Homo sapiens: one gene and its partners. The protein of the gene in region 1 purifies or fractionates together with the protein of each later gene. This does not show direct contact. Each region holds a gene or a part of one and is shown in the gene's direction. Other genes may lie near its edges.

What was found.
Region 2: the proteins of SFRP4 (region 1) and DICER1 purify together in Homo sapiens (affinity purification with mass spectrometry, with the first as the bait; one large-scale study listed by BioGRID). This does not show direct contact.
Region 3: the proteins of SFRP4 (region 1) and LRP1B purify together in Homo sapiens (affinity purification with mass spectrometry, with the first as the bait; one large-scale study listed by BioGRID). This does not show direct contact.
Region 4: the proteins of SFRP4 (region 1) and AKAP11 purify together in Homo sapiens (affinity purification with mass spectrometry; 2 studies listed by BioGRID and IntAct, with this or other methods). This does not show direct contact.
Region 5: the proteins of SFRP4 (region 1) and SIRT1 purify together in Homo sapiens (affinity purification with mass spectrometry; 3 studies listed by BioGRID and IntAct, with this or other methods). This does not show direct contact.
Region 6: the proteins of SFRP4 (region 1) and DCAF8 purify together in Homo sapiens (affinity purification with mass spectrometry; one large-scale study listed by BioGRID and IntAct). This does not show direct contact.
Region 7: the proteins of SFRP4 (region 1) and GAPDHS purify together in Homo sapiens (affinity purification with mass spectrometry; one large-scale study listed by BioGRID and IntAct). This does not show direct contact.

Annotation. Positions count from the first base shown.
Region 1 is NC_000007.14:37,910,318-37,913,817, reverse strand, and holds part of SFRP4 (secreted frizzled-related protein 4 precursor), read left to right. Parts: intron 1-1,500; coding exon 1,501-1,699; intron 1,700-3,500.
Region 2 is NC_000014.9:95,151,030-95,154,529, reverse strand, and holds part of DICER1 (endoribonuclease Dicer), read left to right. Parts: intron 1-3,500. UniProt on the Homo sapiens protein: Double-stranded RNA (dsRNA) endoribonuclease playing a central role in short dsRNA-mediated post-transcriptional gene silencing.
Region 3 is NC_000002.12:140,353,517-140,357,016, reverse strand, and holds part of LRP1B (low-density lipoprotein receptor-related protein 1B precursor), read left to right. Parts: intron 1-540; coding exon 541-675; intron 676-3,500. UniProt on the Homo sapiens protein: Potential cell surface proteins that bind and internalize ligands in the process of receptor-mediated endocytosis.
Region 4 is NC_000013.11:42,306,652-42,310,151, forward strand, and holds part of AKAP11 (A-kinase anchor protein 11), read left to right. Parts: intron 1-1,802; coding exon 1,803-1,958; intron 1,959-3,500. UniProt on the Homo sapiens protein: Binds to type II regulatory subunits of protein kinase A and anchors/targets them.
Region 5 is NC_000010.11:67,905,156-67,908,655, forward strand, and holds part of SIRT1 (NAD-dependent protein deacetylase sirtuin-1), read left to right. Parts: intron 1-1,007; exon of another isoform or gene 1,008-1,099; coding exon of another isoform or gene 1,100-1,132; intron 1,133-1,634; coding exon 1,635-1,782; intron 1,783-2,890; coding exon 2,891-2,970; intron 2,971-3,500. UniProt on the Homo sapiens protein: NAD-dependent protein deacetylase that links transcriptional regulation directly to intracellular energetics and participates in the coordination of several separated cellular functions such as cell cycle, response to DNA damage, metabolism, apoptosis and autophagy.
Region 6 is NC_000001.11:160,256,050-160,259,549, reverse strand, and holds part of DCAF8 (DDB1- and CUL4-associated factor 8), read left to right. Parts: intron 1-3,500. UniProt on the Homo sapiens protein: May function as a substrate receptor for CUL4-DDB1 E3 ubiquitin-protein ligase complex.
Region 7 is NC_000019.10:35,539,956-35,543,455, forward strand, and holds part of GAPDHS (glyceraldehyde-3-phosphate dehydrogenase, testis-specific), read left to right. Parts: intron 1-782; exon of another isoform or gene 783-1,629; intron 1,630-1,795; exon of another isoform or gene 1,796-2,119; intron 2,120-2,363; coding exon 2,364-2,454; intron 2,455-2,534; coding exon 2,535-2,653; intron 2,654-2,955; exon of another isoform or gene 2,956-2,989; coding exon 2,990-3,071; exon of another isoform or gene 3,072-3,318; intron 3,319-3,384; coding exon 3,385-3,500. UniProt on the Homo sapiens protein: May play an important role in regulating the switch between different pathways for energy production during spermiogenesis and in the spermatozoon. Required for sperm motility and male fertility.

The DNA of each region.
Region 1 (3,500 bases):
AGAATTAAGGCCCATAGGCCCAGACAATTAAGATCTGCCTGCATATCCTTTTACTTGTGACTAGCTACAAATATTTAACATCTTAAATAAATTGTGAAAAAAATGTTAATCACAAAATCCTATGGTTACACTATCGAACTAGTTTAAATGCCCTCCTCTCTCTTACTTGAAAGAACCATTCAGCATTTTCTTCCATGAATAAGTCAGTCATGAAATTTGAAATGTTTTAAGTAATTTTAATTTCACAATTGTCATCTGAAAGTAAATTTAATTAACATATGTTCTTTTTCAATTCAAAAAGAAATGTAAAAGGCAGACATTTTAAAAATGTCTGTTTGGGCTGCCTACTTTATATTTCATTGCATGTCTTAAATCATTTCTGCTGAAATAACATAAAGTGGTTTTAGGGAAAATGCTTATTTTGTTTGCTGACTTAGTTTTCATCTTGCAGATTGAAATTTTATATCAGTAAGAAACTTTAGGATACATATCAGACATGAAAGTAGGAGGATCACAGAAATGTAGAAATCTGAAAAAAAATAAGCTGTTACAAAACTATCAGATTTAAGAATCATATTTAGCCAATGGGGGTAATTCAGCAACAACAAAAAGTAGTTTATCTTTTCCTGTAGCTTTTTTTCTTAAAGCCTGCTCTATGTAGCTACCATCCTCATCTGATTTACTTAGTCCCTCCTCTGCCAAGATCCAGCCTGAGATATTAATCTGAGTTTCACTGTCATGTCATTCTCTGGGGTGTTATGGCCTTTGAACGACCTTGATGAAGAAACCATTTTGTATTCAAGTCCTTTGGTGTCTTCATAAACTGGCTTCCTGAAATGGAATCCAAGACAGAGCCATATTAGGCTGATTACAACTCTACGGGAGGCAGTAATAGCAAGAGACCACAGAAACCAGCATTTAAAACTTGGTCAGAGACAGTGACATTAACAGCCATCTGTAATAACAGTTCTATCTCTGCTCACCATGGGTCTACTTTGTCAGTCTGTGAAGTTAAAAGATTGAGAACAGTAGTCCTCAGAGACTCCCTCCAGTTCAAAAATGTTATGACTAATGACTATCTCTGTAAAACAGAAGAAGCTCAAGCATCAGATGAGTGATTGAAGAAATGCAAACCTTAAGATGACTTCTGATCTGAATATATATGATCCCCACTTCAAATCACCACAAGGAAGAATACAAATATATGTTTCTGTGAATTTTTTACTGACCTAAAGGCAGAGAAAGACTAAAACCTGCTTTTCAGCTTGCTTTCCTATCTTGCAGTATGCCCCGGAACATTTAAGACAATGTTGACAATATAGGACACCATCCATTTAGCATATGACTGTGTGGGCTGTTTGCCTGCACTCAGGCCACTTGGACATAACCATAATTACAGGAGTGATTCTTTAAGAGAGGCTCAGAAGTTGGCATGAATACACCATCCCTAGTTTTTCCCCAAAACCTTCAACAACACTTTTATCTATTTTTAAATTGCAGTTATTCATGCCAAAATAAAAGCTGTGCAGAGGAGTGGCTGCAATGAGGTCACAACGGTGGTGGATGTAAAAGAGATCTTCAAGTCCTCATCACCCATCCCTCGAACTCAAGTCCCGCTCATTACAAATTCTTCTTGCCAGTGTCCACACATCCTGCCCCATCAAGATGTTCTCATCATGTGTTACGAGTGGCGCTCAAGGTAGGCACAAAGAGGCAGAAGGAACTGTATGCACACTGTTAGGAAGACCTCAATCTCAGTTAGCAGTCATGGTTTAAAAATATAACAAAAATATGCCAAAGTCTTTTTAAAAAAATTAGTTTAACAGATGCCTCTGTTTGAATAGCATATATTCTATCAATTAATTCTTCATAGAATGAAGGAAAAATCAAAATATGAGTATTTGAATAGAGTCTTTAAAAATCAGTTTCAAAATTCATTAAGTGACTTCAAAATTTACAGCAAGTCAATTATTTTAAGGAAGAACAATTCTTTTCAAATCATTCAAACAATTTTAGAGTGGCACATACTGAACTTTTAAGGCCACTTTAATAGCTTACAGATCAAGTAAGTAGGGAGTTGAGACTATAGTTCCACATATTTTCCATATAAACACTTCATAATATTTGATAGAGTATTGCAAACAAACACGCATGCACACACACACACTTTAAGGTGATTTCTGAATCGGATATGTGATTCTCAATTCAAATCATCACAAGGCAATGTATAAACAAATAAATATATGCTTCACACACACTCATACACATACACACAAATTCTAGCTGTGTGTATTTGTCTCCCTGGCCTCTCTTTCTTTCTTATTTTTTTTGGATATTGGTACATTACTTGTAATATAAAGTCAAACTCTTGAGCCCAGCCTCCATGTTGGGCCCCATAAGTTGATGCAGTATACTTCTCCAGCAAAATCACTCAGTTTTACATAACAAGGCATCCCTCCCATTCTCTGCTGTTAATGCTCATCTGTTTCTTCTAGATATAACCTAAGACTATTCCTCTGAAAAGAAACCAAAAACATCTTTGGGAACTAACTCCACTTTTCTGTATTCTATCAGTACTTGGGTGCCCTCCTTACAACATGGATATCACCTTGAGTTCTTGGTTTTAAAGCCAGATTCTGCGTATATCTTGTCTCCCTAAAGAAGCAATCAGTGATTCTGGACTCATCTCTACCAAGGTGTTTGCATCTGCTGCAGTGCTAGAGATCCAGTTGGGGATACCAGGTTGTTGGTCATTACATTCTATCTGGAGAGATGAATGGATTATAATCCATCCCAGTAAAAATAGTTTTGGATAATTGGGATTTATGTCCTCACAAATGATTCTAATAAATTGGTAAGGGTATGTAAAGACAATTCTGAAAATAAGAGAGGAAATCTGCCTTATGAGACCCGCAAACCTGGTGTAAAGTTACACTTGTTAAAACCATGTGATGCAATAGTAGACGTAAAGATAAATGAAACAGAGGAAAAACTCTTGAAACAGGTTTTAATGCATAAAATACAGCTTTTCATTATGAAGGAAATATGGCACATCAATAGAAAATGAATGTATTATTTGGTAAATGTTGAAAATATTCCTATTTGTAAAAAAATACATTCTTTTCACTTTATACTGTGCTTTACAATAACTTTCAAATGGATTAAATAGATAAATATTCTAAGAACTTTAAAAAAAGGACAAAATTAGTGACTAAATATGTTATATCTGAAAAGAAAAGTAATTTGTAAACATAAAAGTAATGTAAGAAATTACAAGGAAAAATATCAATACACATATCTGACTGCATAATATTATACATATAAAAATCACAAATAATGATAGAAAGGCAAATAAAAATTGAGAAACATACTTGAAAAGATATGAAAAAATAGTAATCTTACTAAAGAGTTCATAAAATTAATATTTAAACATTGAGATCATGATATAGAAATATATATACAGAAATTTATATAGAGAAGTTCAAATAGTAATACAAATA
Region 2 (3,500 bases), on another chromosome or scaffold:
TGGAAAAGCTGAATGGTATTTCATTGTATGAATATACTGCATTTTGTTTATCCATTCATCTGTCCATGGCCACTTGGGTAGCTTCTATCTTTTGGCTACTGTGAATAATGGTGCTGTGAACGTAGGTATACAAATAATTCATTGGAGTCCATGCTTTCCCTTCTTTTAGACATATACCTCAAAGTGGTCACATTGTTTCTTGATCTTCAAAACACTAGACTAGACTCAGAATTTATTGCAGTATGAGTTTTCTCAGGGTTCCTCCAAGCAGTGATAATTTCCTACAAACAACTCCTCTGTCAGTAAAATCTGTAATCTCTCTGAAGCCCAGGGTCGACTCCTTTTTACGATCTTGGTTCCAATCATAGTGTCTGGCAGGTATTCAAAAAACTGATCAAACATGGAGTGATGTGCTTTATTGAATGCCAGAGGAAGATATTGGTGAGGTCTTTAATTTGTATAAAGAGAAAGTTGGAGCCAAGTGACTTATTTTGTTTACCTTTTGCTGTGCTTTTTGGACATTCAAGAGCTTAGTTCATCCTGAAAGCCCAGTGTATGTATTATACTCGCTCTTATTCACAGGTTTCTTTGCAATTTACGACTTGCCAAATGACTAGTCTTCTGAGGCAGCATTATTTTCTTGGTATTCCACCTCCTTAGCCTGTGGGGCTTGGACCTTTTGATTTTTTGATGGCTAGTTTTCACTTCTTCCAAATTTCTGCTAAGACTCTAGTATTAGTACATTTATTTAATAGTTTATGATGTCTATTTTGAGAAAGGATTTGAAATGGTCTTATAATAGGAAAGTATTAGAGTACTATGAAAATGGTAAAGGTTGGTAGTATAGAATGTGGAGGCAGAGAATTAGATGAATGATTGGGGCAAGGAAAGGTGAGTGCTGCATGTAACTCACGTTGATTAATGAAAGGAAGCATACCAATTTGAAGCAGATTTTTCTCTTGTATGAAGAATAATCAATCTTTTGGATTATTACATTAAATAACATTAGCAATATATGGAGAAAATGTTTTACATTTTACAAACGATAGAGAAACATTTTTTCACATGCCATTTTAGAGAAACTGGATAAAAGCCTCAGGCATAATAGAAAAGCTTTAGTAATACAGGTGTTCACTGTTCCAGTGGTTTGATTCATTAATTTCTTTTGGGTGGTGTCCCTCGAATATCAGTTGTCTCATTCAGGCTGTTGACAGATGCTAAATAACAATCCATTCAGGAATAAGCTCTGTGGACAACATGGGCAGTGAGGATTTTCCAAATAGGAATTCTCACCCAGTCTTTTTTTTTTTTTTGAGACGGAGTCTCACTACGTTGCCCAGGCTGGAGTGCAGTGGTGCGATCTCAGCTCACGGCAAGCTCCGCCTCCTGGGCTCATGCCATTCTCCTGCCTCAGCCTCCCGAGTAGCTGGGACTACAGGTGCCCGCCACCACACCCTGCTAATTTTTTGTATTTTTAGTAGAGATGAGGTTTCACCGTGTTTAGCCAGGATGGTCTTGATCTCCTGACCTCGTGATCCTCCCGTCTCGGCCTCCCAAAGTGCTGGGATTACAGGTGTGAGCCACCGTGCCCAGCCCTCTCACCCAGTCTTTAGGAACGTGTGTTGGTCTAAAAAGTAAGACTGGTTGTATCGTGGTGTATACTTGATGAATTAATACAGAAAGAAAAAGATTATTTTTGAGATGTAGCTGGTGAAATTGACATTTTCAGTTATGTAATAAAGCCTTTGTTAAAATAATTCTGAGTGCAAAATGGCTTCCTCATCTAAAATTGTCAATGAATTGTTGGTACTCCTTTAACATGCAGTTACCTCAATATGCATTTTAAATAAGTGACTAAGAAGATGCTACAAAACATTCTCTGAGGATGTCAGTAAGACTGTTACTAGAAGTAAGACATGACAGGCTTAAGTTTGGCCTTAGAGTTTTTTCTTTTTGTTTTTTAGGCTTATAACAGCATTACATGTTCTTGGTTGTGTTAAGGTTTATGGAATAGTAAGGATTAGATTCTTCATGCATGTTCATTACCAGACATGGTGCTTGACATATAGGAGACACTCCGATTTGTTGAGTGAGTAAGTTAATTTATAATACTTTTTGAAGTATTTAGAAGCTAACACAGTTTTGTGGGGAAGAATATTGCTTGCATATTAAGGCTTTTAAAAAGATTATTACTATTCTGCTTTTGGACAAATCATGCTACTTGGTCCTTTTTGCTTTGTGAGGTACGTATGATTATGTGCACAGAAACATTGCAGACTGAGGGAAGTGTTAAGAATCGTGGGAGAAAATCGCCGTCAAAATTGGAGTTTAACTGTATTGCAGACTTTCTCCTTGTTGGCACAGACTAACTCTGTTGTGCTTGTTCGTTCTTTGACAGCTCAATGTATGCCATAAAGCAGGGGTTTTAACAACACATTTGAACAATTCTTGAGGATTAGAAAATGAGGTCTGTTAACCAGTTCAGAATTTTAAGAAAACAAACCGGTTGTACTTAGAGAACTTGAATAATGAGAGAAGACTCTTAGTTTAAAAACTGATCTTTGACATGATGTAGGAAGGTTCTTTGATTAAGAAGTTAAATGACCCTGTTTGAAGGGAAAAAGAAAGGTAGTAGTCGTATTTAGTCGTATTTAGTCCTCTGAGATGTTTCGAGATTGCAGGATTTCTGTCTTTCCTCTTTTGGTAACATCCTGGGAGGTGAGATTAACATGATGAACTCACAGCCTGTCCGCCTCTTATGCATCCTGCTGCCCAGCCATCACTGTCAGTTGCTCTGATTCATGGTATTTTAAGTTCTTTCCACTTTGCAGAGTTAAATATTAATGTTTTATCATAGCTTTGTAGGGATGCTTAAGAGCAAGTGTTTGGCGTCAGAGAGACCAGGGTTCAAATCCTGATTCTTCGACTTTATAGCCGATGAGCACTGGGCATATGGCAACGTCTCTTGAGTCTCAGCTTCCTTGTCTATAAACTGTCGTAGTGGTGTTTGCCTCTTGAGGTTTTGAGAAAAAAAAGGAGTTTCTTAAACTCTCATGGTACATAACTAGCATTTGATAAAATTAATGTAATATTTTTCTTTTAAATACGTGTATTAGAGAAAATTTTAACATGCAATAGTCTTAATGTGATTAGATTATATTGTGAGCCCCCAAATTATCAATATTGAAATGTATGGTCTAGTAATATAATGGAGGATGAAGGAAAAGAGGGCTTGAGAACAATATTTTACAGACAAGTTTTCGAGGAGGATTATCTATACTGGTTCAGCTATCTTAGTTGGTCTCTGTAGTAGTGATACCAAATGTAACAGTGCCTTAAACGTCTCTTAACTTTCCCTAAATAACACATTCTTCATCTGCTATGCATGAATTAACACATCATCCTTGAAATCATACTTCAATTCAGTGTATAAAGCCAAGTGTTTTGTAAAATAAACCTCAAGTTAGGTTTTATGTTTCCTTATGATTAGATTCAGGTTT
Region 3 (3,500 bases), on another chromosome or scaffold:
ATGAGCACATTACACACTCAAATGTTACTCTTCATATGTATGTCCAGCATAAAAAAATGAAATTTAAACTGCTGATTTAGACAACTTGCTTGAGTAACTTAGCAGTACCCTTGATTGAGTTTACAAATATTAAGCTTAGGTTAGCAATAAATGCCTAAATTTCTAGGTAGCTTATAGGAAATGCTTTGGCTCTCAGAGAAGGATGTAGTACTCATATATCGTACTATAATAAAGATAGCCTGTCATTAGAATCATTGACTCCTGACTTATTTTTAAAAAGTGTTACAGCTTAACAGCAGCTCTAAATATCAACTGTTAGCAGCTTGGTCTAATCTGTATTTAATGTTAATGAGTTTAGTTTTTATACTTCTATACATTTATAAGACATGGGGGCTTATATGGAGAGAAGACCGTAACCTTGTACATTCAAAAAGAGTTATCTGTGGAATAATAAATACCATTTCAAACATTTTTTAAAAGTTAACTCCCCACTTCAGGAATTAGAATTATATTAGTTTTGATCATATTTTTAAATCCCAGCTCCTACTGAATATACCTGTGAAGATAATGTGAATCCATGTGGAGATGATGCATATTGTAATCAAATAAAAACATCTGTTTTCTGTCGCTGTAAGCCTGGATTTCAGAGAAACATGAAAAACAGACAATGTGAAGGTAGAGTACTTTTCTTCAACAGTTTGCTCATAAATCTTTGGGTTATGAAGATTCCCAAGACTTCTAAATTGTGAGATCACAGGGGATTGACTTTCATCAAAATGGTGTGTATCTACGGGATACCATTTCACTTATGAGAATGAAAGTCTCTGGGGTCAAGAGCTTGTTTGTGGAGCTAAGCTAACCACGACAGAGGCTACAAAGCTTTTTCTATAGCAAATTCAGAGCTGCAGGAATTTCAATTCTATTGCTACAATACTGTTTTGAAATGCAAATAACGAAATTCCTGGTTCAGGAACTATTGGAGAATTAGTCTTGCTTCATGAAAAAATATGTTTATGATGACCCATTTCTCTTGAGTGTGGAATTTGCAATACTGGAATAGGTAAATCACATTTAGAGAGTCATGGGCTTTTGTCCTAAAACCATGTTTTAAATAGATCATAATGTATCTTTAAAAATTCAAAGTCAGGATCTACATAAATCTGTCAACTTACTTGAGATCATTTAAAAATTGAGCATGTAGGATAGCCAAAATCTTATAGTAAGTAAGTAAATATAATTACATCAGTGTTCTAACTATAGAACCATGAAATACAGACCCATATGCACTTTCTGCAAGTTTCTCCAATAAAACTGCTATTTGTATTCATATTCATATTAATGTAAGTACAGCCAAACCTAAAATAACTAAGTCTGGCTTATCCAGGCTAAATTCAAGTCTTTAAGTGCTTTTACCTACCAGCTTGCTTTTGTTATGTCTCTTTGTGATATTTTGAGGTTAAGAAAAATGATTCTACTTCGTGTTAATCAAAATGGAATTATTTAAATGAATTGATTCTACTCACCCAAAAGGGGAAAAAGTGTAGTCACGTCATGTTTATCTACATTTTGAGTTAAATGTGTATTTGGATTATTCGTGACATTTGATTGTTCCATTACTATGAGACTGAAAGATGACAACCTAGGTTTTCTGTGTTTTAGTTAAAAAATGAATTATCTTTCAAACTATGGTATTTATTTTTCCCAGGCTCTTTCTATCAATTACATATAAACACACACACACACAATTCTTTCAATATTTTAATTTCAATAACATTTATTTTCTAATATTTGTCAGTGGGTTTTTTCTGTATATATGTACTAAATTTAGAAATTATATTATTAAAGTTTTCTTAATTTTTAATTACATTCCACAGCAAATATAACCTGCACACTACATTCTTTATTTTAAATTGCTATGAATCCACTTTTTTGTATTATTTTGTAGGACAGACGAGTAACTTCTGAACTCTAATAAAATGTTCATCTATTTTTAATAAATAAAGTTTTGATTTTAAGGAAAATAGTTCTATTTCAGTGTCAAAGAAGGGTAAGACATAATTGGATTCTATAATCCAAAAATTTAAATTTGTTTGTGCCCTTCACTTATGTATCTGAAAAAATGCATAAGAAATTGCTATTTGATGTTAAAGCCCAAACACTTCAATTAGAATATCTAAAGGGAAAAAAGTAAAGAGGAATGGTGGAAGAAAATTAGAAGGGGATTAACAGTTGCTGAGTGCCAGGTACTGTTTTGGGTACTAGGCATGTGTGGAATTCCTCCATCCCCTTCAAAAGCTCATGATCCAGGCTTTCTAGAGATGAGGCGAAAATGATGGTTCAGGCCAGTATAATGACAAGTGAGGAAGTTGAGGTTGTATGAAATCATGCAGAATACTGCTTATTTGGATTCTGTACCAAAGGGAAACCATAGTGACAAATAACTGCCGGTTCAAAGTTACAGGGGCTGAACAAATCAGAAATATTTGTTGTAATCGTGATGGTTAAGTACTGACAAGATGCATTCTACTTCATTCCTGTAAAATATTTATTAAAAACAACGAAATACACTTTTCTGCATCTCTTTACTCTACATTTCAATCAAATAGCAATGTGTGGTCATGAAAATGCTTATGTGTTCTTAGGCAAAGTATCACAGTAAAGTCAACAAAATCAGAAAACCTGAGTTTAAGCCTTGACGTTGTGATTTACAAGTGTCTCTACCTCTGAGCCCTTAGAACATTGTTTGTGTGCTACGCAAAAGATAGTTATTCTTACTGTGCTGATTCTTAAGTTCTCTAATTCAAGGGAAGGATTTATCTCACAGATTTATTAGGTAATTAGGAGATTATAAGTGATAAAATGAGGCAGGGGAAATATGCTGGCTAAACACAAAAGTAGAGGAGGAAAAGAGAGGAAAATTAGATAATTCCCTAGAATCACCTGGCCTCAATCCTGGCTCTTCATAAGCCCTTAAAATTAGAGTCATGTGCCAAGCTACATGACTCTGATTAAATCACATGAATACTGCCTGTGATTTATTTATTTATGCTAGTGATTTAGAGGTATTTATTCATATATAGGCATGCAGATTTTGCTTGCTTAATTCACATCACATAACCTCAATACAGCCCTTCTTGTTACGTAGTCACTTCATATATATGAGTCCAGAAGTGTGTTAGAGATGTGCCCAAATCTTTGTTCTCTGCCAGTCATTGTGCAAAATCTGGCAATAAAAAAGGAATGTATCATAATTTATGTCCTCAAGGGAATATGAATATGTAACCACATTCCTGAAATATAAGCAACAGTGTAAGAGAGAAACACCAGGAGAGCAAAAACTGGAGAAACTAAGGATGAATCATCACTCCCATATATGGTTGGAGACCAAGGAAGGCTTTATTTCAGGTGGATCTTGAAAGATGAGTAGAAATTCTGTATGGAAAAGTGGGCAAGGGCATTACGGGATGAAAGAATAGCCCATGATACCTTCGAAGGCATGG
Region 4 (3,500 bases), on another chromosome or scaffold:
TAAAGTTAAATTTGTCTTTCAAACTTGAAAGGAGATTCATTCAGATGGATTATTCTTTAAGGTATTATTTCACCTGATGTCCCTTTTTGTTTGATTCATGAACATGACCATAAATATTTCACAAACTGTAATGAACAGAGAGGTGGCATGTGAATGCAATTGGGAAATTATGTGATAGTACATTTTTATTCATTTTTGTTTGTTGTTGTTTGTTTGTAGAGATGAGATCTCACTATGTTGCTCAGGCTGATCTTGAATTCCTGAGCTCAAGCAATCCTCCTGCCCTAGCCTCCCAAAGTGCTGAGATTGCAAGCATGAGCCACCGTGCCTGGCTGATAGTGCATTTTTAGCCAACAAAACGATTATATTCTAAGCTATCATTCCGAGCCAAAATAACCTCACAGTCATTATAAACTCTTCTCTGGACCTCATCCTTTGGGTCATTTCAGCCAAAAACCATGAGAATGTGGCACATATTAGGAAAAGTATTCAAAAAAACAAAGTAGTAATCTATCAATGGTTCAGAACTATAATGTGCCTATGCTTGGAATGCTCAGTATCATTCTGTATCTTACAAAATTAGAATAGCTGAAAAAATGGGGGGCAATTCAGGGGCTATTCTCAGGATAGCACTAGGGATACGGAAGTAAGTAAAACAGGCAAAAATCTGCATTCTCTTGGAGCTTATGTTATAGTGGAATAAGACAATAGGTAAGTAAAATATATAGTATGTCACATAGTGATAAGTGCTTTGGGGGAAAAATAAAGCAAGGTAGGGAGTTAGGGAGTTAGAGAGTGCTGGTGGTGACAGTGGCGGTGGCCATTAGGGCTGGTTTACAGTTTTGGATAGGTAGCAGGGGAAACAATACTGGCAAAGTGATACTTGAGCCAAAAACCAAAAGTGAAATGAGAATAAGTCATGTGGGAGTCACCGAGAACAGATTTCCAGGCCTAGGGGTGGGACTGTGCATGTTTGGGAAACAACAGAGAGGCTTGTATTGCTGAAGTGGGAGGAGTGGGCCAGGGAGAACATAGGAGGAGTGGGCCAGGGAGAACAGTAGGAGTTCAGATGGATGTTATAAGAGGGGACAGGCAGTATGTTTTAAGGATTTGGGCTCTTCGGCTTGGTGGGAAGCCATTGGAAGGTTTTGATCCGAAGACTGACATTTTTTCTTTTTATGGAAACATCACTTTGAACTACTTTGTTGAACATAAAATGTAGTGGGACAATTAAAATAGTTGAGCAGTGAATGGACTTTCTTGTGATGATGGAATAAAAGTATAAATGCCTCTTATTGAGAAAAATGAAAGGGGTTATGATCTATGTTCAAAATCTTGAAGAGATTTGGTTAGTTTGAATACAGGCTTGGTTGACAATACTAGAATTTCTTGAACGACTTTTTTGTTCTTAAAGCCAGAAAGAGACTCCTTTAACATAAATAAAAGTACTGTTTTACAAAGCAGATGATAACTTAGGAACTTGTACTGCCCCATGGTATCTCAGTTGAAAAATGAACTGCTTTAAGTAGAATTTAGAGAAATAATGCCCTAGGGATAGATCCATTGTAGATTAACAAAGTAAGTTATGGCTGTTGGTGGGTACCTCAGTTAACTTTGAAATTAATACGCTATCCTACAGTCTGTTTGTTGGCAGACTCAAATAAAGGATTACATGAGCCACTGGTCTGATTCCGAATACCATTTCTTGTTTTTATCATCTTTGTCATCAAATTGATAGTCTTGTAAGTTCAGAATCTGGGATGCTTTCAATTTGATTTTTTTTCTTTTTTTCTTCTTTTTAGTTCAAAAGAAATAGAAGACTTTCAGTCAACCGAGTCTGTCAGTAGCCAGCAGATGAACCTCAGTATTGGTGATGACAGCACTGGTAGCTGGTCCAATTTAAGTTTTGAAGATGAACACCAAGATGAAAGCAGCAGTTTTCATCATCTAAGTGAAAGGTAACTACACTTTTGCATATAATTGTGTAGTTTAGGTCCTCAGATCTTAGAAGTGAGCTATAAATTTACATTATTATTTAAAAATTCTAAATTTGAAAATATGCTATTACTTTCAAAATGTATTTTATTATTCACAATGTATTTCTAATTGTTTTTAACACTTATTTAATACAGTAAGTAGCCCAGCTAATTTTATTGGGGTGTGCCAATAGTTGATTTGAAAAATATTGCATACATTTAATTTTATGCCTTTTAAGCTTCTCCCAAACTTTTTATGAACTTCTGAGGAAAAATTTTTTTTTTCACTTTAAAAAGGGTACTTTTTTTTCTTTAAAGAACAAGAAAAAGGACAGGTATCTGTAAAAGGCATCAAAGTAGCCCTGTACTTTTCCTGACATTAGTTAAAATAGTATCTTTTTGGTGGGGCGAGGGTCCCTGCTTGTCCTGCTGTTAGGAACAAAATGACCTGGAAGACTTATGCTTGAATGATTGAAAATACGTAAGTCAAAGCCATTATAAAAATGTGATTTTGTATAGCACAAGGCACTTACCTCATATATAACTTTTCTTAGTTAACTTTGTTCATAACAGTGGTGTTTGAAATATTTTATTAATTATGAGACAGTTGTTTCTTATAGTCTTAACCTCTACCTAAAGGCATTTCTGACTAACCTATAAAATTCTATAAACTCTTTATCCACATTAAGTGATAACTGGAAATAATAGATACCATTTGTAGCAGAGTCTTGAGGGAGGAAAGGGTTCTTAGCATATTGCTGGTTTCAGGCATGTGTGGAAAGGACCTGTGGACCATCAGTTGAACTTAGCCCCTGGAAATGGCAAACTAGGTGTGGGAGGGAAGGCAACTCTTGGAAAAGGGAATGAGGTAGCATAAGGAAAGGAAATGGCTTTTCACCTGATAGAACACTTCATCTCGAAGAGTTTTGTTCGATGCTTGGATTAACCTGGAAATATTAATATTTTTGTAAAGTATATTTTGTCATAGTTTATTATGGTGCTATATAAACCACCAATATTTCTTAAAATCTAGGTCCAAAAAGACAGTGTTTAAAACTGGTAGAAGCAAGTGGGGGCAATGTCACAAATCATGATTTGGCCCTTTTCTATAACTTTATCTAGAAAAGGATACTAACATTTAGTTTCTTCTCTCATTTTGAGAAACACAGGCTTCTATGATTTCAGTGGGGTTGACAGTGTTGCCTAGGAAATCCTGGCGTTAAAATGGGAGATTGAGGTGTGGGTAGAGGCTTTAAGCATTAAGAGGACTTGTAGTCAGTTGAACAACTCTGTGCTGAATATTATCTAATTTGATGAGAAAAAGGAGTCGTCTTACCGGTTTCTGTCCTTGGTTCTGTCCTCCTTAGCATTATTTATTAATGATGTGGAATACTCATTTGTGGATGATTCAACACAGGCTGAAAAAAGAATCTCATTAACAGAACAAAGGTTAAAAAGACCAAATCAAGCTGAGGTTAAAATAATTATGTTTAACATGGATAAATGCATTTAGGCTCAGAAAAT
Region 5 (3,500 bases), on another chromosome or scaffold:
ATTCTCATAGTGCCTAAAATACTCTAAAAGCTATTTCCAGAGGGAGCTTTAATGAGACATACAATGCTTAATCTCTCAAATGTAAATGTACTAGAACAAAGCATTCTGGGGAAGAAAACAGTGGTTGATTTAACTGAACTCACTTTTCCAAAACAGTGGCTTTTGATTTTCTGTAAACATTGACTTTATTAAGCTTTTCCCTTGCTACTATATGCACTCTCTATTTCTTAAATTGCAAAGAGTTATTCATGAAATTTGTGATAAATATTTGAATCTAAGGCAACGTTTTTGGATTCTTTATACGAGGTTTTTAGCAGCATGTGTACATGTATGTGATAGCTGTTAACGGAATTCACTTAAGTTTTACTTAGAAGCCTGGGTAGTAGAACCTAGAAGTTGCAGTGGGAATTTTTTTTTAATTTGAAAGATTAAATAGGTAAAAAGTCATCTTTAATCTCTATTAAACTTTTTTGTATAATGTCAGAAGTGAAAGTTCCCCACATCTGCTTACAGCCTGTTTGTATCCTTCCTGACTTGATTGATTAAATGGACATCTCTATATACATATGCATATAATTTCAATTTTTGCTTAGTAACAAAAACAAAAGTTACACATACTGGTGACTAATTTGCTTTTTTCACGTATGTCATGAACCATTTTCCAGGGCAGTTCATCTAGATCTCCCTCAATTCTTTTTAATGGCTACATATTCCACTATTATGGATGTACCATATTTATACAACCGGTTCCCTATTGATGGACATATGGTTGTGTCTAGTTTTTTGCTAGCATTGTGATAGATTAGAGCCTGTAATGAATGGTAAGGAAGTAAGTAGATGATAGCACTACTACTTTGAAGGAAAAAGTAGAGAATAAACTTCCTTTGCCATAGTCACTTACTAAATGGAATTTAATAAAAACACTGTCAAAAGTTGGGAGGACCAAAATTGATACTTTTTCTCTGATCTTTTTGCCATGTGTATATCTGAATTCTTTGTTTTTAAAGAAGAAACAGCATTGAAGCATTATTTGGGGGGAAAAACACACACACAAAATCCAGCAACTCAGCATTCATGAGCAACTCTATACTATACCAGTATGTGCCTGTGCAGTGGAAGGAAAACAATTTTGGTAAGGATTAAAACTTTAGCTTTAAACTTCCAGCAGGTTGATATTCTAATGAATGATAAATCAAAAAAAAATTTTAAATATTCTTGTATTGACAGTGCTTTTTTTTTTAAATCACCCTACCTTGATATCTGTAATTTTAGTTTAAACTTTCCCATTTTTCTTTAAAGAAAAAAATCTGAATTTGCAGCCAACAAAAATTAGATATCCTAAGGTTGTATTACTTCTGACTTTTATTAAAATATCAACATTTCTTAGAGATGTTTATGGGCCGACTTTGTCTTTTTCTTCAAGGGGCCAAGTTCACTAATTGCTGAGTTTTATGCATATGACAGCAACCGTCCTTTTGTAGGTGTGTGTCGCATCCATCTAGATACTTTAAAATGCTCATCTATTTCATTTTTAAAATTATGTGTGTGGGATTATCAGTATTTTTTTGTTAAACATATGACATCTGTAGTTTATTTCACTAATGTAAATTTTTTCTACCATTTGCTTGATACAGGAAATATATCCTGGACAATTCCAGCCATCTCTCTGTCACAAATTCATAGCCTTGTCAGATAAGGAAGGAAAACTACTTCGCAACTATACCCAGAACATAGACACGCTGGAACAGGTTGCGGGAATCCAAAGGATAATTCAGTGTCATGGTTAGTAAACTTCAGAGTGGTTTTCTGTAATTTATTTTAGTTTTATAGGAAGATATTTCCTATAAAGCTGACTGCCATCGAGAAGTGGAGATAAAGCATTATTTAATCATGTTATCTCATTTATCGATAACCTCAGAAAAGTAGAAAACAAAAATAATAAAAACAGAAGTATTGGCCTTGACAGTTAATTATAGAAAACCTCAGATATTAATTTGCTTTTGATTTCAAAAGATGCTGCAGTTGCATGCATTCAATTATTTTAAATAATCTTTTCTGGCTGAGTGCAGTGGCTCACGCCTGTAATCCTAGCACTTTGGGAAGCCGAGGCGGGCAGATCCCATGAAGCCAAGAGTTCGAGAACAGCTTGGCCAACATGGTGAAATCCCAACTCTACTAGAAATACTAAAATTAGCCGGGCATGGTGGCAGGCGCCTGTAATCCCAGCTACTCAGGAGGCTGAGGCACGAGAATCACTTGAACCTGGGAGTTGGAGGTTGCAGCGAGCCAAGATTGCACCATTGCGCTCCAGCCTGGGAGACAGTGAGACTCTGTCAAAAAAAAAAAAAAAAAAGAAAAAGAAATTCTGAATACAAGAGTAGTATTAGCTGTTAATGAAGAAATGTGACATCTTTAGTTTATGAAACTAAAAGAACTGGATAGTTGAGATGTACAGGATTCAGAGATTCAGAAATGTTTAAAACAAGTATCAACAGGCCATTAGGTATCTAAAGTGTTTCTAAGAACTGCCGAGCTAAGGTAATAGAGTTGGAACTGTCCAACTCTGCAGGATTTTAGCCCTGGAGGAGTGAGCTGTTACAGTTTTGTTGAAAAGAGTAGCTTTAGAAGGCATCATTATATTAGTGTCTCAGAGATTGAGAATCATATTCATTCTATGTATAAATATATAAATTCTTCATCCCCTAGATTCTCCTGTAGTATATCACAAAATCTGCAGTGTGTTCTGAGGTTTAAAATCAAAGTTAAAAACAAAAACAAAAATCCTTAAACCCTCTTAACATTTGTGATGTTAAACTTTATAACGTTTGTGGTGTGTTCAAGAAACAGAAATACTTCTTTAATAAAGCATATATATGTTGTTTGTTTTTAGGTTCCTTTGCAACAGCATCTTGCCTGATTTGTAAATACAAAGTTGACTGTGAAGCTGTACGAGGAGATATTTTTAATCAGGTAATTTGTTGCCCATATTTTAGGAATTGTTCATGTCTCTGAAGTATTTCTTCTTTTGCCTCAAAATCCTTTTTTACCCCTTTAAAGTATATATGGTACAGAAAGATTCAGGAAGAAAATAGTTAGCATTTGGGAATTTTGGTAAAATACACGAGAACCTTTCAATACCTTATATAGAAAACAGCCCTATAAAGGCTCTTCAAATTATGAAATTGGCTTCTTAGTATCTAAGCCGAACATAAAATGTCAGATCATAAGCAAGTTGTTGTTGTAGTAGTTTTTCTCCTTCCTCTCCCTTTTTGTGCCTGTCAGATTTGGACCTTAAATTAGTTATGGTAATCTAAAATTATTTCATACATGTTCATTGCCAAAAAATATAGGAAAATTTGGCAGAAAATAAAAATTATCCAGAAATATGTCCTGTGTGCTTAGCAATATATGGAGGTAATCATGTCATTACGAAAGAGGAAGAATAGTATATTAAAATGGAGTCATTGGTCGGGTGCAGTGGCTCATGCTTGTAATCCCAG
Region 6 (3,500 bases), on another chromosome or scaffold:
TTGTTTGTTTGTTTGTTTTTTGACGAGTCTTGCTCTGTCACCAGGCTGGGGTGCTGTGGCGCGATCTCAGCCCACTGCAACCTCCGACTCCCTGGTTCAAGCGATTCTCCTGCCTCAACCTCCCGAGTAGCTGGGATTACAGGCATGCGCCACCATGCCCAGCTAATTTTTGTATTTTTAGTAGAGGAGGGGTTTCACCATGTTGGCCAGGGTGGTCTCAATCTCCTGACCTTGTGATCTGCCCGCCTCAGCCTCCCAAAGTGCTAGGATTACAGGTGTGAACCACCATGCCCGGCCAAAGAGTTCTTTTTTCAGCTCCACAGCTGGACCGTCTTAATAATATGACAGCACAGATGAAGAGTTTTAAACCTTTTGTTGGCTTTTCTTTCGTATCTTTTTGGCAAGGGCACATGAAAATTAAGTACTGATAATATCACAATGAAAGCAGCTGTGTCATTCAGACCAGTGACCATTTTAGGTTTGATGAACTTTTCATTACCATCATCCAGGGTCTAAATTCTCCATTGTAAGGTAAGGATTCTCCAGGGTGGTGGTGAGGTGGGTTGAGATTGCATTTGTATCATTTGTGTTTTTATGAACTCTGAAGATCCATGTCGGGTGAAGGAAAGGATGGGAGGAGAAAAGGAAATACTTTGAAAGAGGGATAACTTGGACTGTTTATTTCCTTATGTGCTGGGTAAGAATGTCCAGGTGACATCTATATGTAGTAAATCAGTATTTCTAGTCTGTGGACCACACTGTAAACTTTTTATCTTTCTAAAGTTTTTTTTATTTTTGTAGAGATAGGGTCTCACTTTGTTGCCTAGGCTGGTCTCAAACTCCTGGGCTCAAGTGATCTTCCCACCTCAGCTGAGTAGCTGGGACCGCAGGGGCATATCACCATACCTAGCTAATTTTTGGTTGTTTTTTTTTTGTTTGTTTGTTTTTTTAAAGAGATGAGGTCTTACTTGCCCGGCTCAAGTGATGCTCCCATCTTGGCCTCCCAAAGTGCTGGGATTACAGGCATAGCCGCAGCACCCAGCTTGAAGATATTTTTATATTTCCAGGGTTTTAGGTGTTTACTTAAGAATTGTGACATCTTATTAGGTAGTATTTCCTAGGATGATTAGAGTGGGAGGCTAAGAATGCTTGTGACCTTTTAGTTCCCACCACCAACCTCTTAAAGTGCAGTCTATTTATTTATTTTTGAAATAGGATCTCACTCTGTCACCTAGAGTGCAGTGGCACTATCATGGCTCACTGCAACCTCGACCTCTTGGGCTTAGGTGATTCTCCCATCTCAGCCTCTCGAGTAGCTGGGACTACAGGTGCACGCCACCGTACCTGGCTAATTTTTGTATTTTTTGTAAAGATGAGGTTTCACCATATTGCCCAGGCTGGTTTCAAACCCCTGGGCTCAAGCAATCCTCCTGCCTCAGCCTCCCAGAGTGCTGGGATTACAGGCGTGAGCCACTGCACCCTGCTAAATGCAGTCAATTAAATGTATAAGAATCTGCCAGGCTGAGTGCGGCTGGCTCATGGCTGTAATCCCAGCACTTTTGGGAGGCCAAGGTGGGAGGATCACTTGATCCTAGTTGTTCAAGTCCAGCCTAGGCAATATTGAGACCTTGTCTCTACAAAAAGTTTAAAAAAAAAGCCAAGCATGGGGCAAGTACTTGCAGTCCCATCTCCTTGGGAGGCTGAGGTGGGAGGATTGTTTGAGTCCAGGAGGTAGAGCTGAGATTGCGCAGTGATCACTGCAGTGCGCTGAGATTGCGCCTCTGCAGTTTAGTATGGGCAACAGAGCGAGACCTAGTCTCAAAAAAAAGAATCAGTTCCAGTGCCATGGTCCTTAGTGTGGAGTAGGACCAACCTAAGACAGAAGCTTGTCTACAGAGAGCTGAAAGAAAGCAGCCTCTTTGTTGCCAGTTTAAAACAATACTGGCATTTTAAAAGCAAACAGATTCTAGTAGGAGACATTGTATAGAAGCGCACCCTGTTGTGAAAGACTGGGATCTTGAGTTTCGTGCTCTAAGTCTTGTATTCTATCAGGGGAGTAATAGGCTTTTAAAATCATAAAGTGACTATTAAAATGCTTTCAGTAGATAGATTCATTACTCCATTATTTCTACTGTATAAAAGTTTATTCTAAACATGTCTAGGAAATATCCAGATTATAAAAGAGAAATAACGGTATCCAAACCAGACTTTTTATTGCATAACATTGGTGTTAGAGTTAGTTTTTAAGTCTCTGAGATTGAATTAGCTTTTTTTTTTTTTAAAGCAGATTATCAGTGAGCTAAGATAATCTGCTGTTTACCCTCACCTATTTGGAACACAGGCAACTGAATTAATTGAATCAGCAATAGGCATGGGGTAGTGACTTTGTATATTTTCATTTTAGAGCCAAAAGCCAGTGAGTTTTAGATTAGCTTTATAGTAATATTAAAAACTTCATCTTTTATTTTTACAAATGTAGCCAAGAAACATCATTGCTGTTAAAATCAGTCAGAAAAGGAGGCTACTTGCTCTTTATTGATTTAGTCATTCTGCTCTTGGAGTGAGTAGAAAGTCTTTGAAAGCTTTTCAAAAATTAGCGAGTGATGAATTTTATGAATTAGTCACTTCTTTGCAGCAGTTTTTTTTTATCTCTACCTCTGTAGGACATAGTTCCTGGGCCAGAAGCCAGATTTCTCAAGTACCATCTAACCCCAGGAATGTGTTATGATACAGATAAATTAATGAACGGAGGCTGCCTTGAGGTTGCCAATAGGGCATTGGGGAGTAATTAATATGACAAAGATGTCATCTTATTAATGAAATGTATTAATAGTATGTCTAGTGGATTGGGTCAATGCAAACATTTTAGATTAGATATTTGCTGTTTATCCTCTGAAGTTACTGTTTAAGGAAGTCTGGCCAAGTTCTAAAGTGAAGCATACATATTTGCCTCACGTGCCATTTTTTTTTTTCTTCCTGGCTTTTTCTTAGCCATCTGGAAAGCTACTATAGGGTTTACCTCTAATGGTAGTCAAGTTACTGTATTCCTCTGGTGTACTTTAATGATTGCCACATTACCAGGTATGTTTTGTTAACCTTACTTAGAATCCAACATTAGACCCTTTCTTCTAACCTAACCTGTAGGAAGGCACTTCTTGAGGTTTTAAGCCTCTCTTTAATGTTTTATTGTAAGTTGTACCTTGGGAGCATCATTTTTTCATCTTAAATCCTCTCCAGTTTAAGAAAAATTTGAAATATAAATGGCAAAAACTGTTAATGGCAACAGACTTCTGATGTAAATGTAAATTGAGATGGAAACAAAATGAAAAGTAGATTTCCCTAGGAATTAGTTAAACTGAGATAAATGGTCCTGGATGTTTTTATAGAAAGTTCTCTTAGCCAGGTGCAGTGGCATGTACCTGTAATCCCAACTACTCGGGGGGCTGAGTTGGGAGGACTGCTTGAGCCCAGGAGTTTCAGGCTGGCAACATAGCAAGACC
Region 7 (3,500 bases), on another chromosome or scaffold:
TGCAGTTCCCCGCCCCTCCAGCCCCCTCTCCATCCCCGCACTGTTGGGCTGCACAAGCCAGGCTGTGTGCCTGCACTCTGCCCTGCACCTCCGCTAGCTAGCTGGGTGACCTTGGGCAAGGAACCAAACTTGCCTGAGCCTCAGTTCCCCGCTGTATCTGATGGGGATGATGAGCAAACCCACCACAGCGGTAGCTGGGAGCACGAATGGAGTGAACATGTGTTTGTGGACACTTAAACGGGCACTTCCCACAAGGCCATGGCCTTGCACGGAGGGCTCTGTCAACTGGTACCACCACTGTTGCTCTGGCATTAGCAGGTACAGGCCCTGATAGCCATTCAGAACTTCCTTTGAATGAATGAATGGAATCCTCAAAACAGCCTGGTGGGCAGGAGGCTGGGGCCCATGACAGCCTTGGGGAGGGCCTGGGGTCTTCTGGGGGCACAGTCTTTGCCTCAGGCCAACTCAGCAATTGTTGCAGAGGAATCGCAAGTGTCCCTAATTTGGAAGGCAGGAAATGGGGGGTATCTGAGAAGAGCTCGTTGGGCCAGATGATGGAAAGTGGACTGACAGAGCAGGAGACAGGAAGAGGATAACCATGCATGTGTGATGGCTTTGCAGGGCAGCCCATTCATTCATTCATTCAGGCAGTGGAAACAGGAGTGCAGACCCGAGGTGGGACCAGCCACCTGCACTCCAGCAGGCTCTCCCTCTCACTCCCCTCCCCTCTGCCCTGACAGCAGTAAAAAAATGCAAAAAATGACAGCGGTAGCACTTCCTCATCGGGTTGTGAAGGTTACATGAGTTTAATGCAGGTAAGGCACTTAGAATATGGGCACAGGACAGGTGTTCAGTAAACACGTATAAAATGGCTAACTAAAAAAAAAACACGAGGCCAGGTGCAGAGGCTCATGCCTGTCATCCCAGCACTTTGGGAGGCTGAAGTGGGGATCACCTGAGGTCAGGAGTTTGAGACCAGCCTGGCCAACAGAGCAAACCCCGTCACCACTAAAAATACAAAAAACAACAACAATAAAAAACTAGCCAGGTGTGGTAGCGCATGCCTGTAACCCCAACTACTCGGGAGGCGGAGGCAGGAGAATCGCTTGAACCCGGAAGGTGGAGGTTGCAGTGAGCCAAAATCGTGCCACTGCACTCCAGCCTGAGTGACAGAGTGAGACTCTGTCTCAAAAACAAAACAAAACAAAACAAAGAAAACCCATGAGGCCAGGCACGGTGGCTCACACCTGTAATCCCAGCACTGTGGGAGGTCAAGGATCACTTGAGCCCAGGGGTTCTAAAGCACCCTGGGCAACAAAAGTGAGACCCCATCTCTACAAAAAAATTTAAAAATTAGCTTGGCATGGTGGTGTGCGCCTGTAGTCCCAGCTACTCGGGAGGCCAAGGCAGGAGGATGGCCGGAGCCAGGAAGATCAAGGCTGCAGTGAGCTCTGATTGCACCACTGCACTCCAGCCTGGGCGACAGAGGAAGACCCTGTCTCAAAACAAACAAACCCCACAAACATTGATTGAACCCCCCATTGAGGGGAGCAGGCTCAATGGCAAAGGAAACAGACCGACACTGGCCAAGAATCACAGAAGCAAAGCACCCGGTTACTCATGATAAACCTGGGAAGGAAGAAAGTGGAACAGTTTATTCACTTAATGCTTGTTTGCTAAAGCCAAGTAGAAAACGGCAATACTAGATGTTTAGTGTGCTTCAAATACAAATGTTTGTCAAAATACCAAGTAAAAACATAAATTTATAAAACAGGAAACCAGAAACCTCCCTTACCTTTCCAATGTAAACCATGAGCCACTGCTGCCCCAAGGCTGCCTCAGGCTTCAGGAGTCCTCCAGGAGCTTTTTCTTTAATGCAGTGTCTGTTTTCAGGGACCCTCCTGGCCTTTGGCAGCCAGCTTCCTATTGCAGGAGCTGAGGGTCTAGGAGGGTTCATGGCGAGGTTGTCAGAGCTGGGAAGCAGAAAGCAGCCGGGCAGGCCTCACAGTCACAGAGTCCACGTCCCGGGCAGCATATGGAGAAAGGGTCTGGGCTGGCTGACAGCAGTCAGCATTGGCGCCTCTGAGGAGGTTGAGGGCTGAGTTGGGGAGGTCACCACCTGTACCCAGGCATAACAGGGGTGGTGCAATCAGCAAAGGGAAAGTGGTCTGAAGTGGGGCAGTGGTGAAAAGCTAGGCCAGCGGGGTGGAGCCCATCTGGAACAAGTAGGTGTGTGGGGTAGGGGACGCAGGTGGTTGCAGGTGGGCCGGTACCTGCTCAGCCTGTCAAATGGTGAAAGCCATGGACTATGAAGGTGGGGCTCAAGCAGGGGAGACTGACTCAGCCCTGCCACTTCCCCACAGCAAAGAGCCCAAACAGATCCCCTGGAGGGCTGTCGGGAGCCCCTACGTGGTGGAGTCCACAGGCGTGTACCTCTCCATACAGGCAGCTTCGGTAAGCTGGGGAGAGGTGCCCAGGGCTAGCTGGGGGGATGATGGTGCCAGAAGCCCCTGACACCTGCGCTTCCTCCCCAGGACCACATCTCTGCAGGTGCTCAACGTGTGGTCATCTCCGCGCCCTCACCGGATGCACCAATGTTCGTCATGGGTGTCAATGAAAATGACTATAACCCTGGCTCCATGAACATTGTGAGGTAATGTGGGCAGTGACATCCTGCAATGTGTGGAAGGGAGGGTAGACTCGTCCTCCCCACCCTCAGCCCCACTGGATTCCTGGTCGCTTGGCTTCTGCTTCTCCTTCCCGAAACTATCTGCTAAAAACGCATGACTTCCAGAGGACAAGCTTGGGGAGCCTCCCCAGCTGCACCTCAGTGCCTCCTTCAGTCTGACAGTGTCCCCACAGATCCCTCTCACCCTCATCCTGACGTTTCATAAAACCAAGTCTGCGTGCATACCCCAAGAGGGGTAAGGGTGGAGGGGTGGCTCTGCGACTCACCTCACAGTGTCCGTGCACACCTTGGCTGTTTCAGCAACGCGTCCTGCACCACCAACTGTTTGGCTCCCCTCGCCAAAGTCATCCACGAGCGATTTGGGATCGTGGAAGGGTTGATGGTGAGTTGAGGATGAGGGGCTGGGGCAGGAAGGATGGCAGGGAAACCCAACTTCTTCCCGGGCCTTGCTTACTGTATGGAGTTAAGAGGGAGAGACTGGTTTCGGGAGGAGAGGCCCACCAGTGCAGAAGTCACTTAAAACACTGTGCAACCCTCAGGCAAGGCTGGACCCTGGCCTGCACACATCCCCTCCTGTGGTCTGTGGTGGTGGCCCCACCAGCCTCCACACCTAGGCCACCAACTTAGTCCTGGAAAAAAGAGGCATGGGAGCTTAGGAGCATGAAGGCCTCATCTTGGTCCTTCTCTTCCCCAAGACCACAGTCCATTCCTACACGGCCACCCAGAAGACAGTGGACGGGCCATCAAGGAAGGCCTGGCGAGATGGGCGGGGTGCCCACCAGAACATCATCCCAGCCTCCACTGGGGCTGC